Linked DNA regions of Homo sapiens: all the other regions are reported to be linked to region 1. Evidence: microRNA targets listed by miRTarBase, many of them from high-throughput screens and not tested one by one. Region 1 holds a microRNA gene; each other region holds the end of a gene's coding sequence.

What was found. Region 1 holds the annotated microRNA hsa-miR-7106-5p (UGGGAGGAGGGGAUCUUGGG, at 1,369-1,388, opposite strand). A microRNA usually pairs through its seed, bases 2 to 8, with sites in the 3' UTR of a target mRNA and lowers its output. Matches are read on the target gene's strand: a 7mer-m8 pairs with bases 2 to 8, a 7mer-A1 pairs with bases 2 to 7 and ends in A, and an 8mer does both.
Region 2: the mRNA of SRRD is a reported target of hsa-miR-7106-5p. Seed matches in the 3' UTR shown: 7mer-A1 at 1,193-1,199 and 7mer-A1 at 1,028-1,034.
Region 3: miRTarBase lists SH3RF1 as a target of hsa-miR-7106-5p. Seed matches in the 3' UTR shown: 7mer-m8 at 2,505-2,511 and 8mer at 1,693-1,700.

What each region holds. Positions count from the first base shown.
Region 1 is chr12:113,157,785-113,161,135 of GRCh38, forward strand. It overlaps MIR7106 (microRNA 7106), which reads right to left and starts at 1,393; the gene lies at 1,329-1,393. It overlaps CFAP73 (cilia and flagella associated protein 73), which reads left to right. Exons shown (of 8, transcript NM_001144872.3): 8 at 917-1,492. DDX54 (DEAD-box helicase 54) reads right to left here. Exons shown (of 20, transcript NM_024072.4): 20 at 1-1,325. The coding sequence ends at 1,093.
Region 2 is chr22:26,491,314-26,494,313 of GRCh38, reverse strand. SRRD (SRR1 domain containing) reads right to left here. Exons shown (of 7, transcript NM_001013694.3): 7 at 1-2,851. The coding sequence ends at 2,642. It overlaps TFIP11 (tuftelin interacting protein 11), which reads left to right. Exons shown (of 15, transcript NM_012143.4): 14 at 10-175; 15 at 1,946-3,000. The coding sequence ends at 2,301. Among named protein-coding and RNA genes, the nearest start is that of SRRD, 8.9 kb to the right of the region's middle. RefSeq lists an enhancer at 1-1,026.
Region 3 is chr4:169,093,530-169,096,880 of GRCh38, forward strand. SH3RF1 (SH3 domain containing ring finger 1) reads right to left here. Exons shown (of 12, transcript NM_020870.4): 12 at 730-3,158. The coding sequence ends at 2,990. Among named protein-coding and RNA genes, the nearest start is that of CBR4-DT, 85 kb to the left of the region's middle.

The DNA.
Region 1 (3,351 bases):
TTTCCTCATTGGGAAGATGGGAGGGCTGTGCCTGTTCAGAGTGCTGTGGGCCTGCCATGAGGGGCACATAGCAAGCACTCCATAAATGCAGGCCCTGATGAGGAGGTGATGGGAAGGTCAAGGGGCTATGTGTGGGGCAACTGCCTCTAAAATGAGATCAGACCAGGCCCTCCCTGCCAGGGTGGTTGGGGCATGAAAAAAAACTCTTTGTCAGGTCTCAGAACAGGGTCCATGCTAGATGAGAGATCACCAAGGCCCCCTCCACTATGGACTCTGCCAGGTGAGGGGCCCAGCCTGAGAATCCAGCTGCTGGGGCTGCCCTTGACCTTCTCAGAACCTCAAACAGGGGGTGGGTGGCAAGAAGACAGAGGACAGGCCAGGTTCTGACCTCCAGGTGTGGAGGGGCCGCGTTAACCTCTTCATAGCCAGAGGGGAGCAGCTGTGTCCTTGCCCCCTGGGCTGGGCATCCTGTTCCCCTCCCCCAGCCCACTCCCAGCTGCAACCATGTCCAGTGGGAGGAAGGGGGACCAACTCCCGCCTCTGGCACCTGGTTTGTGCTCTGAGCTTCACTTTCCTCATCGCTAAATGGACAAGGCAGCAGAACTCACCCTCAGGAGACCCGCAACTCCTCTGCCACGTTAGCTGGGATTTTAGTACCTGGGTCTCTCCATTCCAGTTCCCCAAGTAGACCGCACTCCTGGCCACCAGCAGTGCTCAATAAAGATTTATTACATTAAAAATTCCATTGCCAAACCCTGAGGCACTCAGGGCTCTGACCGGTGCAGCCATGACCTCTGAACCCAGAACACATGGAAGCAGCAGCAGCTGAGTTGCCAACTCAAGTCTTGGCCTGCCTGGCTTTGCTGGCGAACTCCTGCACACCCTTCAAGGCCCTGTTCAAATGTCTCTGTCTTAGGCTGACGCAGCTGCTGCCCTTCTGTGGCCATACAGTGCTCCTTTTCACAGATGATGGCTCCTGCAGGGAGTGCCCCCAGTGCCCAGCACAGGGCCAGGCACACAGTGGTGCACGGGAACGTCTGCTGATGCCCACCCTAAGGCCAATCAAGGAGCCACGGGGCTGGGTCCTGGTCCTCACATCCTCTTCCGCATCTTGCCCTTCTTGGAGCGGGCACCCCGGCCGAAGGCGCCCTGCTGCAGCTCCTGGACGCGGCGGCGGTTGCGGGCAGAGAGCTGCTTGAGGCCACCACGCTGCAGGAAGTGCAGCTTCTGGGCCCGGCGCCGCTGCTTCAGGATCTGCTGCTTGGTCTTGAGTTCCGGGCGGACTCGGCCTGCAGGGGTGCCTGGGGCGTGGGGCCGGGATGCACCTGCTGGGACAGGGATTCAGGGAGCTCAGCTGTTGGGATCACTCCCAAGATCCCCTCCTCCCAGAAGCTTGCAGACTCCTCCCCTGCCCCTACTCCTGTTCTGTGCTTATTGCTGTGGCCCAGTGTCTGTACACAGTAGGTGGCTAATAAAGTTTTAGGCAGCCTCATGGAGTGGTCAATAACACGGGGCCAGAACCGCTGGGGTTCAAATCCCAGCTGTGACCTCTTGGACCGTGGGCAAGAAGTTAACGGCTCTGTGCCTCAGTTTCCCCATCTATGAATTATAAATCACAGCACCTCCCTCATGGGTGAAGAGTAAATGCATTTCCATGGTGTAAAGTGGTCAGAATTTCAAGGCCTGTCCCATAGTGGGAGCCTTTTGGGCATGACTGTTACTATTAAAAATTCTCCAACCAAGGAGTGTATGTCTCCACAGCACACCTACGGCACGCCAGGCTCTGAGGCCCCCCATAGTAACCGATACAGACCTCAGCCTCTGTCTCCATGGACACCATGCTCTAGGCTTGTTAGATGAAAAAAGAGTGTAGATGAACCTTCCTTTAGGTGGGAGAGGAATCAAAGAAGGCCAGAGAGGGAGAGGGACTTATCTGAGATCACACAGCAAAGCAGCAGCAGCAGCAGAGGTCAGCGACCCTGCCCCAGCCCCACAGGTGGGCATCAGGTAGTCCATTCTTCTAGTTCTCCGGGAGGCAAGCACCACCCTCCCTGGCTCCCACTAAGCCCTGTGTCCTCCTCCTCCTCTTCCCCATTCATAACAGCAGCCTCCCCAGGGCTCCTAGAGGGATGACCATTAAGGTGGTCCCAGCTGTCTCCAATGGAGCCAGGGTGCCTCGCAGGACCTATCACCTCCAATGAGGACAGCAAAGGAAGAACAGCTGCTTTTTCCCAAAGCCCACAGGTCGCCCCCGTCTCCCCAGCCCCTGCACGCCCACTGCACGGCAATGCTCGCAGCAGAAGCTGCTGTTTCACCTAGGTAAAAACAGGCTGAGAAGTGAGGTGTGGGTGGTCCCCACCCAGCCATGCTGACAAGGAGACACTCCCACAGATGGGAGAGCTGGAGAGGGAGGAGCCACAGAGAACAGGCCCAGGCAAATGCACGCAGGCTCACAGAGACACCCAGGGGAGGCAGTGACCAGCCCCAGGAGGTGGAGGGACACAAGCAGGGGCTAAGGCCATCTGAGAGAGACCCAAGACATGGTCCCAAACTCCCCTCTCCCCAGGGAAGACTCCAGGTGGGAGCCTTGGGCAGCTGGGTGACCCAGGTTCAGTCATAGCCCTCATAAGGCACCTGTTTCCTGGCCTGTAAAATGGGTATTCGCAGTCACCTTGCCTCCCAGGTCATGTGTGGCCTTCCAGGACAGAGCCTGCCTGCACCCAGCAAGCGGGAGCCCCTCCCTGATAACAGCCCTTAAGCACAGGCTCTGGCAGACAGAGCCGGCTTCAAATCCACCTTAGCTTGTTACTGGCTGAGGGACCCAGGCCAGATCAAAGAGGTCCAAGTCCTCAGATGACCAAATGTACCACTTGCCAACCCACATTTCAAGGAAGTATCTTCCTCAACATCCCCTGTGATCGCCTCCTCCCAGAACCAAAGCTGCTTCTGACTGCGTCTTTGGTGACATGAACTTCCCCACAGCATTGCTAAAAAGAACGTCACTCCTAAGGATGCCACAGGGAATCAATTCATGCTCACTGTCAGGTCGAACCACATGCAAATGCCATTTTTGCAGGTGAAAATGGCCTGCATTTGCACAAGGTTCCACCTCCCGGGTTCTCTAGGATTTTACACAATCGGCTTAATTAGGTGAACAGGGCATCTACCAGAAGTTATCCCTGTAGCTTCATCTGTGAAGTGGAAGGGGGTCGGGGACAAGGCACCTGAGGGGCATGGCACTTCCCAGCGCCTGTCAGGCGGTGCTCGTGACCATCAGAGGCCGGGACAGTAGGAAGGGGGAAACTGTGGGTGTGGGGGTTGGGTGGGGGGGATCATGGAGGGACCCAGGGT
Region 2 (3,000 bases), not on the chromosome of region 1:
TTTTGGCAGGTGCTGTGCTCTTGGCTCAGTAACAGCCCAAATTATGAGGAGATCACCAAGTGGTACCTGGGTTGGAAGTCGATGTTCTCAGACCAAGTGCTGGCACATCCATCTGTCAAGGACAAATTTAATGAGGCACTTGATATCATGAACCGGGCGGTGTCCTCCAACGTTGGTAAGTGAGGATTCCCATTTTGGATGTCCTGGCCCCAAGTTTCAGATTTTACACATGTAAATGACACAGAATCAGAGTTTTCTGGTTCCTGTAGGCAGCCTAAACCTTAGGTCACACTTTTGCACATAGCAACAGACTCTCACCCTGCTGACTGGGGTACATGGTCAGCTGGCACCCACTGCCCAGGTCTACCATGACTGAGAGGGGCATCTTCCCTGAGTGGAGACTGACTTAAGCTGGATTCAGATGATGTCAGTCTAACCCCAGGCCCCGCCCTCTTAACCACTGTGCTGTGTGGCCTTTTAAGGCTCATTCATGCCTGAGCATGCTGCTTAGGTGACGCATCTTACAGTGTGGAGTTTGGCACGCGGTCTGACACTTGGTGATTGCTCAGCCTTAATCAGCCCCATTTTACCTGTTAAACAGTAAGATCTACTTTATAGGCTAAAAGGGAGAGTGAGTTCATGCTTGTGTATAGCCTTCAATAGGTGGTGTCTGTGTTGTCAAAAACAGGCAGTTCACTGTTCGTGTACTATATCTGTTCCCAAGTTCTAGGTAAGTCATTCTGCCTAGATCATAAGTAAGTGAGAGTATATTTATGTTTCTACATTTGGGAGCCTATTTCAACCAGTCCTGTGCTCCAGTGTTGCTCATTAGCCGATTCGCAGCATTGAAATGGGATCGTCTAGTCTGTGTTTTACAGATAAGCCCAGCGAGGCTGAGAGCCTGTTCAAGGTCACATAGTTAAAGGGTGGCAGTTAGAACTGGAATTTCTATTTCCTGAGTCTTTAATTCTTGTTATTTAATAGCCTAGGCCAGGCACGGTGGCTCACGCCTGTAATCCTAGCACTTTGGGAGGCCGAGGCGGGTAGATCACGAGGTCAGGAGTTCGAGACCAGCCTGACCAACATGGTGAAACCCCGTCTCTACTAAAAATGCAAAAATTAGCCGGGCGCGGTGGCACATGCCTGTAATGCCAGCTACTTAGGAGGCTGAGGCAGAAGAATCGCTTAAACCTGGGAGGCAGAGGTTGTAGTGAGCCGAGATTGCAAGCACTGCACTCCAGCCTAGGTGACAAGAGCGAGACTCGGTCTCAAAAAAAAAAAAAGAAAAATAGCCTATTCTGTGAAAACAGAGATTAAGTAATAAGGCAAATATACTTCTCTGCTTCTGTAATTATCAAGTTTTTTCTAAAAACTCTTCCTTAGCTACCCTTGGCCTCATGTTTCCAAAACTGTTCCCTGAATATACCCCTCAATTAGCACTTAGCATTTATGGTCTTGGTATTATCCTTTAAACACTCATTTCAGCTCCCTAAATATATGTGAACTTCTTTCAGGATGGGGGCCCTGTGTGGGTAGGTTAAAAATAAAGCCAGTATGGGCCCTATGTTTTCAAGGTACTAAAAGCTGCCTCTTTGGTGGTGGGAAATGGAAACTCTACAGAGCAAGGTGGGAACAGAAGAGTGGCTGAGGACTCTCTGTTAATGTTTCCAGCTCTGAAGGAAGAAATCCCTTGCAGATACTTCATTTTAAAATGTTGAATATTAATAATCTGGTTACTAGATACTAGCCAGGAACCTTCTGAACAGTTTTTATGTGATACTGGCCAGTCGTCTAAACTTCCTCCAAAGTTGTATCTTTGAGGCAGAGCTGCCCTTCAGTGAGTCACAAGCACTCTGGCACACCCAAGACCTGGGCCAAGCCACAGTGTCAACTTCCATACACCTGGAAACACCTCTCCTCACCGCCCTGTCCTCCTGTATCTTAGGTGCCTACATGCAGCCAGGAGCACGGGAGAACATTGCCTATCTCACCCACACGGAGCGGAGGAAGGACTTCCAGTACGAGGCCATGCAGGAGAGGCGGGAGGCTGAGAACATGGCTCAGAGGGGCATTGGCGTGGCCGCTAGCTCTGTGCCCATGAACTTTAAGGACCTCATTGAGACCAAGGCTGAGGAGCACAACATTGTCTTCATGCCCGTCATTGGGAAGCGACACGAAGGGAAGCAGCTCTACACCTTTGGCCGCATTGTGATCTACATCGACCGGGGAGTGGTCTTTGTCCAGGGCGAGAAGACGTGGGTGCCCACCTCACTGCAGAGCCTGATCGACATGGCCAAGTGAACTGTGGCAGGTCCAGAACCAGTCAGAGACTTGCCCCTAAGAGGGATGTACTGTAAATAAACAGTATTTTTAGATCACCTTCAAAAGGGTAACTTCTTTACTCAGGAGCTACTCCACATCAGGCCAGGTCATGAGGGAAGGATGTAAAATGGGACAATGCCACGTAGGGCAGGAATCTTTATACCAAGTCCTCATGTGGGGTATCGTCCTCAAAACAGGACAGCCAAGTTGATGTTCTTTCCTGGCAAAGGAGTTCTCTGTAGTTCCTCCATAGCAGCCTTCCCTTTAGTCTCTGGTGGCAGCTTCTACCTCAGCCAACACTGAGTACCTCACAACGAGTTCAGTCAGTAGCAGAAGGATCTTCTCTCTTGTTCCTGATGATTTCAAGGTCCTCACAGTCCTGATAATCTGGTTCTTCCCGAAACTCCCAAATATCTATGGAGAGCTGTTCTAGCTTTTGCACAGGGAACCAGTGGACAGAGGTATCATTAAATATGTCCATGTATTGTGAAGTCTGAGGAAACTCAAGCTCCTCCAGTCCTTTTAAAATCTGAGCAGAAAAATTCAAGTATAAAAACTTCAGATAGTCACAGTAATCCCCACTCTTCTGGGATAAATTTCCACTTTACTTGTCATCCCCACTTTACTTTTTAAAAAAATAACAAATAGGGTATTTTGATTTAAATGCTTTTGCACAAT
Region 3 (3,351 bases), not on the chromosome of region 1:
CATATACTCCAAGAGAGTGAGATGAATATTTGAAACCAGAGATAAACTTAATGCCACACATTAAAATAGCACTTTTCAAAAACAGTGAGATTATCTCCTTTGCTCCTCATCCTCACCCAGTGGGGTAGATGGGACACCAAAAGGAGGAAACTAAGTAATAATCAACTTGCCCAGGTGGCTACAGAGATAGTTTTTGGAAAAGCTACAATACAACCTAGAATTCCTGATTTTCAATTCTGATAAGTCATTTGACAGTAGCCAAAAGTTAATAAGAAAATAGTTTTTAACATGACTTACATGGGCCTTTCATTTCATGGGAAATTAAAACCATGGTGAATCTAAAGATTTTGTCCCCAAGCCATGCTGAGACTTACGGGTTATCATACTATTGGTTGATAGGTCTGCTTTTCCTTCTATGGCTAAGACAACTAGCACTCACCAGATTATTTTAGTAACTGGAAGAGGAAGAGGGGAACACAAGTGCCATACATGACCTCGTGCGACTCCACAAACTCTTTTTAAGCTTCTTGGAGAAATAAACAAGGTTTGTTAGTTGCAGAGGTAAAATGTGTCATAATCACCAAATTGATTCCTGTAGACATCTTCCGCTTGAGATGTATGCAAAGAATTTTTGTGAGGTACAAATTAGGTCAAATGTGTCCCGTGTTTTTTGTTTTGTTTTGTTTTTTTAAAAAGCAAAATTTTAAGGACTGACACAAGGGACATACAAAGGTTTGAACATCAAATTTTAATCTTGAAACCTTTTATCCAGTCCTCAAATTATTAACATGAAAAGGAGTGATAAATCGCAATTTTATCATTACCATATCACTGTGTAACAAGCCCTTGTTACAAAATCTCCCTCTACTGTCTGCAAAAAACCAATAGAAAACCCATACATTATATTACCTAATGATCTATTAACAGATGAAATTTTAACCAACTTTATACCAGGAAACTATGAACAGAGGTACTTCAATCACATAGCTTAAAATATGGAGAAAAGACAGGTAAAAAAATTATCTTAACCTGTAGTAGTCTTTTTTCTTTTTAAAATTTTTATAAAATACACTAATTTCCCAAAATAAAGAATATTATGACACATTGGTGTCAACTTACACAGATGAAAGCTGATGCCAGCTTTTTCCTAACTAAAGTTCATTTCACCAAACCTTTATATATTACATGAATATCCAAGTAAAGTATTTTTTTTTTAAATTCAACACACAGGAACATAATATACATTGTTTTTTTTTAAAAAAAAGGTTAATTTAGGAATGATTTCATCTTCAACCACATAAAGTATCTTTTTAAGACCATGAAACCTCTTGTCATTGCAAGACTTTTCAGTTCATGTTTCTATTTCCCAGTTTTAATTCTTAAAGGAAAAAAAAAAAGATGAAAGGGTTTATTATGTATTTCCCATGAGAAAACTGTGGTAAGGATCTTATTCATTACCAGGCTGTCTTCCCTCCTTTTGTTTTCCGGACTACCCAGATCCATGACTGCGTGGCACCGTAATGAAATCGGTGGGAGAGGCCAATGACATCAAGGAATGGATATAAAAAGACAGGCTCTTCTGGATCCTGCCACAATTGTAAGGTGTGGGCAAATTCACTCCCACCAAGCCTTCCAGAGCTCCACAGTCACAGGAGTAGTCTCCTGGTTAACTCATCCTTGATGTCTGTCTGCTGGGAGGACATAAAAGACCACTTTCACTAATGACTTGTGTAGTGGCTAATGCATGCCTTAGCCAGAGAGGGAGCGAGTGCACTGAAGAGACCTTGGTCAGTAGTGGCTTTGGGGTAGAGAAGAGAACACTGTTTATTTTTACACCTCCTGAATTGGTCAATTCTGAGTACAAACTCATCTTAACAGGAAATCGCAATGAAATATACACACCATGCACAGTCTATATTACTGTGGGAATCCAGTAATACATGCAAGACGTGGGGAAAGAATCACAATGGATGAATATGAACTTTTCACAGTGTTTCTTATAGCCTTTGACTTAACACGAGTGCATCACTTACCACCACTATCTCACAAATGTTTTACTTGTGTCCTGGGCATGCAGGTCAGTTGGGGTAAAATGTGAAATGACGCTTCATAGCCATTCTCAGACAGTGACTACAACTTCAATTTCCCCTACTTTCCAACCAAACAATTGAGCTGCTTCTGCTATAAAACTAAATATATTTCTAAATACATTTTGTTCAAGGGTTGTGCTGTATTCTTTCTCATTGTTTCAGTCACTTCATTCTAGGAAAATTAAAAACCCACACAATTAAATTGAGGACTAGGTCTTCAGGGTGATTCCTACCAAACTAGAAAGAGAGGGAATCACTAACTTCTCTTCTCTCAAGTTTCTGTCTCTCTACCCCAGGCCCTAATTGATACTGATTCATTTGTATGTTTGGTTTCCCAAAGAAGAAAACCAAATTAGAGAACTGGGATTTCTATCTTAAAGAAGCAAAACATAACCCCAAAATATAATGGTAGCAGGGAGGAGGAGAGGGGAAAATGCATTCACTCTATGTCAAAACGAATCTCTTGCTCTCAACAGGAGATAATCCAGCTTCTCCTTACCTATCATTTCATAAATTAATAATTTCTTAAAATCATAATCCAAAGAACGTATCTATTATACGAAAAGTTCAAGTTTAAAAAAGCAAATAAATTAGTTAAGCCTTGTAAACAATTGTCCATTTTAGTCATATATCTTAAAAAAAAAAAAAAGTTTCTCTGTGTAGTAAATCAGACAGTACAAGGCACACCTTATACATCCGAATCCAGACTAACAAAACCCACACAAACATCTTCTTCATTCTGCTCGCTGGGGTAACTGTGCTGGGGCATCAGAGTCACATACCAATCCTTTGCTCATCTCCTGACCATCTGGAAGTCCACAAATGTGCTCTTTCTGTTAAACTGCTTTGTGCTACTTTGTTGTGTGAAGTGATTTTAAGCTTCTTCAGTGTCAGTCTCCTCATATGTTTTCCACAAAGCTTCCTGGGAAAAGGCCAGTTTTCCCATTACGTTGTAATGTGCCTTTGAACCAGCCATCCTCTCGTTTTTTATGAACAAACACAATATCTCCTTCTTTAAGTTCAAGTTCTGCCTCACTCTGAGGAGGATAGGAAACCACCACCCTGTGCCTAGAAAAGAAAGAGATTTTGGTTAAGGCGATTCAAAGCAGTGATTTTAAAAAATGGTGTACTGTTAGTCTGCACGAACCTTCAACATAAATAGGAAATAACATTAATTCATTTATGATTGTAAAACAACTCAAAATACTGCTATTTTCTGTTTAGTAGAGACTTAGTACTAACAAAGACTGGATTTGGATAT